Homo sapiens: one gene and its partner. The protein of the gene in region 1 purifies or fractionates together with the protein of each later gene. This does not show direct contact. Each region holds a gene or a part of one and is shown on either strand. Other genes may lie near its edges.

Region 1 (4,038 bases):
ATGGCCTTACCCCCAGCCCCTTGCTCTCTGAAACATGTGCTGTGTCCACTCAGGGTTAAATGGATTAAGGGCGGTGCAAGATGTGCTTTGTTAAACAGATGCTTGAAGGCAGCATGCTCCTTAAGAGTCATCACTACTCCCTAATCTCAAGTACCCAGGGACACAAACACTGCGGAAGGCCGCAGGGTCCTCTGCCTAGGAAAACCAGAGACCCTTGTTCACATGTTTATCTGCTGACCTTCCCTCCACTATTGTCCTATGACCCTGCCAAATCCCCCTCTCCGAGAAACACCCAAGAATGATCAATAAATACTTAAAAAAAAAAAATTTACATTTAAATTATCTGAGAGAAAAGATCAGTCGAAATTTTAACATTCAAATTGTAATTAACTAAATTAAGTTGTCCAAACACTACAAAGATATTGTAAATCTGCTTTCTGTTAGGATATTAAAATATTCAATACAACACACACACACACAAAAAAACATTCTGGGTTTTTTGTTTGTTTTAAAAATTCTGCTAGAACCTCAAGGATTTCACTGACTGGGGGCAGTTTCTGTGTTAATTTATTGTTTCTCATCCTAAAATAACTGAAGTGCAGACCTTGGATTTGAAAATTTTTTTAATTACCCAGAACTCAAGAAGAGACATGCTTCCTCATGATCTCTGTAATAGTGGGCAGGACTTTTTCTATTCTGCATTTTCACTGAGAGTGAAATGCTTCAAGGATGCCATTTTTATTTGGGGGTCTCAGTTCCAACTCCCTACCTTGCACATGGGCATTACAATCCAAGAACCAGATAAATGGACAGTTCTCAAACCCCAGGTAACCACAATATCAGTCCCACAGGCTTATCATTCTGCTTTTTAATTATTTTTTTCCCACTGCCTGGAGTCGTCCCTTTCCTCTTGTGAATTATGCTGTGCATTTAAGATAATGTTTTTTCTGTTTTATGTAGCATTTTGAGGTGTTTATAGAGAACAGGTTTTTAGGTCATCTGGTTAACCATATTCTTTGCATAGAGATTAGTACATAGCACAGATTCAAATGTATTCTTCTTTCCTTCATTCAGGATGCAATAGAGGGGATTTGTGTCATATGCATGGTAGAAGTCACCATAGATATTCTCTAACCTTCCAAATTTGAAATCCTATAAATTAATAGAATTACATTTTCATGCTTTTTTGGTAACTGTTCCTAATGTCTTATTGATCAGGCTACTTGACAAACTGAAAGCTCATTGAAATTTATATGGATAATTAACACATTAATTGTTAATAAACTATATTTGGTATGATATAAATTCTACTTTATAATAGAAATATGACTTTTTTCTATATCACATAACTACTTTATAATGTTAAGTTAAATAGTATCAAGTTTTAGGGAATAGTCTGTGGTTTCTTGGATTATCTTTAGTAGATAGTTATAGGTTTAAGAGTATAATTGGATACTATGGCATATGCATATTATAATGTTATCATAATAATTAGCCCTGCTTGTATTTTACTCATATTGTTATTAAGGTATACTTCTAAAAGAAAATCATATATAATCATTTGATTGAAGAGTCCCTGTAGAGTCATTACTATCTATATCTTTTAATATTTATTAAATTAGTCCTCCTATGTTGACATTTTTTATTTGATCAATTTGATATGCTTTATTTTTATTTTTATTTTTATTTATTTTTTTTTTTGAGACAGAGTCTCGCTCTGTAGCTCAGGCTGGAGTGTGGTGGCGCTATCTCAGCTCACTGCAAGCTCCGCCTCCGGGGTTCATGCTATTCTCCTGCCTCAGCCTCCCGAGTAGCTGGGACTACAGGCGCCTGCCACCACACCCGGCTAATTTTTTGTATTTTTAGTAGAGACAGGGTTTCACCACGTTAGCCAGGATGGTCTCGATCTGCTGACCTCGTGATCTGCCCGCCTCAGCCTCCCAAAGTGCTGAGATTACAGGCGTGAGCCACCGTGCCTGGCCTCAATTTGATATGCTTTTTAATAAAGCTGAAGATCTCAACTATAGACAAGAAAAGATCTGGCAAGCATTTTAAGTAATTATGGTTATATTTACTTATCATCTAGGTTTACTGGGAAACTGGTGCTCAGATCACATCTCCTCATGATAAAGAAATTCTAAAATGTATAGAAGAATGTGTGGAACCCTGGAATGGTTCCTGGAATGATAATTTAGTGGATACCAGCCCGCTGAAGAGAGACCCTCTGCAGGACATTTGCAGGAGATACATGGAAGATCTGAAAAAGATCTGTTTTTACAGGTATCCAAGTGAGAATATCAGATAATACTACTTCAGAATAACGTTAAAGAATGAGGAGAATAAAAAGTGATAAAAAGTGTTGTCTATTTATTAGATTAAAATTATAGCTAAATAGTACTCATAAGAGTCAAAGAGTGGAAATAACCCAAGTAACCATTAACTAATGAATGGATAAGTAAAATGTGGTATATCCATACAATGAAATATTATTCAGCAATAAAAATAAATGAACTACTCACATACCACAACATGGATAAACCTTGAAAACATCATGCTAAGTGAAAGAAGCCAGTCACAAAGAACCACATATTGTATGATTCCATTTATATGACATATGTAGAATAGGCAAATCTATAGAGACAGAAATAGATTAGAGGTTTCTTGTGGCTGGAAGGAATGAAAGGGTTGGGGGCTGGAAGCTATAGGTTATAGAGTTAGTTTCTTTCTCTCTCTCTCTCTCTCTTTCTCTCTCTCTCTCTCTCTCTTTCTTTCTTTCCTTTTTTTTGAGACAGAGTCTCGCTCTTGTCACCCAGGCTGAAGTGCAGTGGCACGATCTGGGCTTACTGCAACCTCCGCTTCCTGGGTTCAAGCAATTCTCCTGCCTCAGCCTCCGAAGTAGCTGGGACTACAAGCAACCACTACCATGCCTGGCTAATTTTTGTATTTTTAGTAGAGACAAGGTTTCATGATGTTGGCCAGGCTGGTCTCGAACTCCTGACCTCTGGTGATCCGCCTGCCTCAGCCTCCCAAGGTGCTGGGATTACAGGTGTGAGCCACCATGCCCAGCCTAGAGTTTCTTTCAGGAGTAGTGAGAATGTTCTAAAATTGATCATAGTCATGGTTGAACAACTCTATGAATATAGCGAAAGCCATTGAATTGCACACTTTAAATGGGTGAATTATATGGTATGTGAATTATATCTCAAAAAAGCTGTTAAACAAGTTATACTTAAATATATGTATTTCCTCTATGTTAGATCAGTACATTTCTCTTAAGAGTTTATTTTTCCTTAACCATTTCCATATTTCCATAATTATCTCTGTAACTCTTCTGTAAATAGCTAACACTATTGCTAGGAAGAATCCTGGCTAGCTGAGTGTATTTTTCCTATCCTACAAAATAATTTTAGCTTTTTCTCAACTTTATTTTAATTTCAAAAGTATACCCATCAAGCTGTCAACTGTTTGCTTCTCCGTCTAAAATAAGTGACAGTAATACTAGCTAAATGCTACCAGCTCTAATCAATCTAAAAAGAATTTGATTCCTTTTTTATCCTTTCTGTCTTTTCTTATTTACATTTTTGTTTTTTAAAGAGTATATGGGCAAAAGCAAATTAACAAGTGAACCTAACTATTTATCAAGCTGAAGGCATAATTACACAGAGAAGAATTATTTCAAGTGACTTTACAGTTATTGACTATGTATTTCTAGTGGGATATGTCCTAAGGATAAAGAACTACAAAGAAACCTCAAATTTTATTTGATAGCTGTACTGTTAGTGGTAATATTGATGATTTTACAGATGTAGATATAAATAAATATATAGACATACACATATATATGATAAAACAAATGGGTAATTATGTTAATGTCACTAGGATCTAAGATTTTAGTTTAAGAGAAGTGAATGTAAAATCAAATAAAATAATTTTAAAATTATAATTTTAAATTTGAATTTGAAATATGTTTTATTTACCTAAAATACCAAAATACTAGTTCTGTTACTAAAAAGGCCAATGCCTACCCCTAAAGCCCAG
Region 2 (3,500 bases), on another chromosome or scaffold:
ATTTTTCTCATCTAGAAGGAGCTGGCAAACAGCCCTGACTGTCCCCAGATGTGTGCCTATAAGCTGGTGACCATCAAATTCAAGTGGTGGGGACTGCAAAGCAAAGTAGAAAACTTCATTCAAAAGGTAAAATCTGCTCAAAATGTGGTGACTTAGATTTAGGATGAGATCGGAGCTAGCTATTAATGGGATATCTTCTCTGTTATTACTTTTTTTCCTCCTTTATGATATGAAAATTATTGTCCCTACATAATTCATTTCAGCCCTTCTTTATACCTCAAAGCAGCAAAGACAGATGGCAGCAGAGGTTTTAAGGGACTTTCTTTGGAGACAAGCACAGCAGCTTTTTGTTCAAAGTGCTTACCTTATGGTTTGCCCAGCGCTTCTGTAGAGAACCCTTTCCCCATACAGCACGTCCCCAAGAGGACCTGGTGTTCTGATCCTGACTGGAGGGAGAGAGCGGGCCCAGCCTGCTGAAGGACTCCCCTGCCCCATCTCAGCTGGACCCTTCCCCCTACCCTCCATATCTCTCAGAATATGTATGTGTGCCTTGTGCTGTCACAGGGGATGTCTTCTTTAGAGGTCTTTACTGAAAAATGGGCACACTGTGAACTAAGGTACACAATCTGAGGATCCAGATTCTACTTGTTTCTTTTTTATGTCTTCTTTATTAAAGTGAAAGTAACATGGGCAGTTAGATCTAGGAGGAGGGGAGAATTGGAATTTTATAAATGCACACGGTTGTTACTACCTAGGAATGTTGAAACATTTCCTTGGTGTTTACTTTTCCTGTAGGGCGAATATTTATTCTGTTATTATTATAAAGAAGCCCTCATTATATCTCAGATCTCCACAATTAGTTATGTCTGTTTCATCATAACTTTTCTATTTTTAAACTATAGCTGCTGTAGTATTTTATAAGACAAGGATCTCAAAGTGCTGGAAACTTTGATTATTCATGGGCCTGCTTACAGTCAGCATTCTGTAAATATTGGCATTCTTCCTTCCTCTCGGATCATAATCATAGATTAACAATCCAGTTCTGATAAATAGAAGTCACATATGTAATTGATAAAGTCCTTTCTATTCATGGAAGAAGATTTTTAAGTTGAATATTGTCCAGAAGTACTTACTGTTCCATGCACTTTTCTCTCTTCTTGGGAAAGCTGAATAAAACTTAAATAATCCATCAATTGAAACCGCTAATTATATACATGGTTTTTAAATATATTTATAATAGTGGCAGCAACATGTTGTGTAGAAAAATTAAGGGAGAGTTTGTAATGATTCTTAATTTAATAAAAGAACCCAGGACTCTTTTCTTTCAATGCATTATTGTATTCCACCTCATAGTGAATGTTAAGAATGACAATATATAGTTTTATAGCAGAAGAAATCTAGTTGACCTTTGCTCATTGACATTTAGAAAAAGGTAAAAATAAATCAGGCCCAGCAGGAATGTGTTGGATTAGGTCATACACACCGCATTTTTTTAGTTTCTACTAGATCATGACACCTTTGCCTAGGAGATTATTTTTCATTTCACAGGGAAAGTTTTTTTTTGTTTGTTTAATTTTGCTGGACACAATGATAATTAAATGGAATTATGATTTCCACAAATCTACAGAGTAGTCTTTTTGAACCAAATGTGTAAATTTCATGGGTTAATTGGAACATGTAAAGTTAATGTGTCATTAATCTTAGGTTTTTGTCATCTTATGCTACTTTTTTGTTGTTGTTTTAAAAGCAAGAAAAACGGATATTTACAAACTTCCATCGCCAGCTTTTTTGTTGGATTGACAAGTGGATCGATCTCACGATGGAAGACATTAGGAGAATGGAAGACGAGACTCAGAAAGAACTAGAAACAGTAAGACTGGCTGTTCTATGGCAATTCTCTAATTTTCCCTTTTCTAAAACTGTATACATGCTTGGTAAATACAGAGTTAGAATTAGGAAGAGTGTTGTTAAAAATCATTCCCTATTCTACTTATTCTCATCAAAATGGAGTTTCTTAGACACTGCTATTCCTTCACATATTCTGATCTCTCTTTTGTTGAGCATCTTGCGTGAAGGTAGACTAGAGTTTTCTCAGTCTAGAATTGGTTACCTGTTAAATATCTAATGGTTCTGTATTCTTTCTTACACACTAGCTTTAGTTCTGTAGGCTGGTTCCTGGTTCACAGTCGTTTTAGACACTTTGTCAGACTAAGTTGCTTTTGGCTCAGTTTGTATCACAGCAAGCTTAACAAATGTTAACATGATAAGTCCTAGTTCGCTTTTTTTGTAGAAAAGGTAAGGCTAATGGTATTGTTACTAATTCTGGAAATGCCTCCTCTGCTTCCCCCAACTGGCAGTGATCCTTATTTCTTCCTAAGCTTTGGGCAGATTCAGGTGATCCTTGGGCAGGAGGTCAGCATGCCACAGTTCAGTGTTACAGCCCATCCCAGCTGCTCCCCACCACCAGTGGGCAGGGCCGGCAGCCAGTGGGTGTCTTCTCTCTCCTCGGGATGGATTCTTCCCTGGCTTCCTCTTGCATGTGTCTGGTTTTGTTTTTGCCCTGGGCCATGCTTGTCTTCAGTTGGCAGTAAGGCCCCATGGGTGAAACAAACCCAAGGAATGTCCAGGGCCTGCTAGTGGTTTCCATGTGGTCATCTCGAGTCCTGCCAGCAGGTCCAGTTTTGGAAGCCCTGCAGGTGTGAGCGTTTGACAGACGCCTGCGTGTGAGGCAGAAACTCCATTTAATCACAGGAGAATGGCAGCAAATCAGATTCTTTGGCACAAAAGGAAACCTATTTTTCTGGCACATAGCATCGTAAAGAATCTGTTTAAAATTGCTTACTTTTGGTGATTACAGCAGATCTGCTTCTAATTAGTTTTATATAAACCTTCTGAGAGGACTAGGACATATTTTCTTTATAAGGCAATAAAATATTTTAACCTTATCTTATACATAAAGTAAACTATAGGCAGACTCCAACTTATGAATGGATTTTGTTCCAAAAAATTTTAAGTTGATTGTTTGAAATTTGGAACATATTTTCCCATAGAGACAATGTTATAAATTAGGGTTTGGTTTCTAGACTAGCCAGCATAATATGCCTCTTTGACCCCAATTTCTCATACTAATATTAGGACTCTGAGTTCTGGATATAGGGAATAGGGTGATGAGATGGCAAGAGTGGAAGATACCCCCCTCATTCCTTATTTTTAGTCTAGCCACAGGCAAAACACTTAAATAGGCAAGAGCAGATCATGGGCACTTCCTACCTTTCTTTCTAGGCCTCTCTCCCACTTCTGTGTTCCCTTTTTCAAGAGTCAGGTGCCTTTCTCTGACTCTAACAAGCACCCCCCTGGCCCTCGCTACCCTATCCAGTTTTAGTCCCATTTGCCTTGTCTGGTTTCACTCCCTCCAAGTGCCCAAGGCTTCAGGAATACCTGCCAGCTCTGCCTTTGGCTCTTCCAAGCAGCTGGTGGGTGTCCACTGAACATGAAACAGA

The links.
Region 2: the proteins of PGM2L1 (region 1) and PITPNB fractionate together in Homo sapiens (co-fractionation; one large-scale study listed by BioGRID). This does not show direct contact.

The regions. Positions count from the first base shown.
Region 1 is NC_000011.10:74,349,625-74,353,662, reverse strand, and holds part of PGM2L1 (glucose 1,6-bisphosphate synthase), read left to right. Parts: intron 1-2,086; coding exon 2,087-2,280; intron 2,281-4,038. UniProt on the Homo sapiens protein: Glucose 1,6-bisphosphate synthase using 1,3-bisphosphoglycerate as a phosphate donor and a series of 1-phosphate sugars, including glucose 1-phosphate, mannose 1-phosphate, ribose 1-phosphate and deoxyribose 1-phosphate, as acceptors.
Region 2 is NC_000022.11:27,856,757-27,860,256, reverse strand, and holds part of PITPNB (phosphatidylinositol transfer protein beta isoform), read left to right. Parts: intron 1-15; coding exon 16-126; intron 127-1,747; coding exon 1,748-1,870; intron 1,871-3,500. UniProt on the Homo sapiens protein: Catalyzes the transfer of phosphatidylinositol and phosphatidylcholine between membranes. Also catalyzes the transfer of sphingomyelin.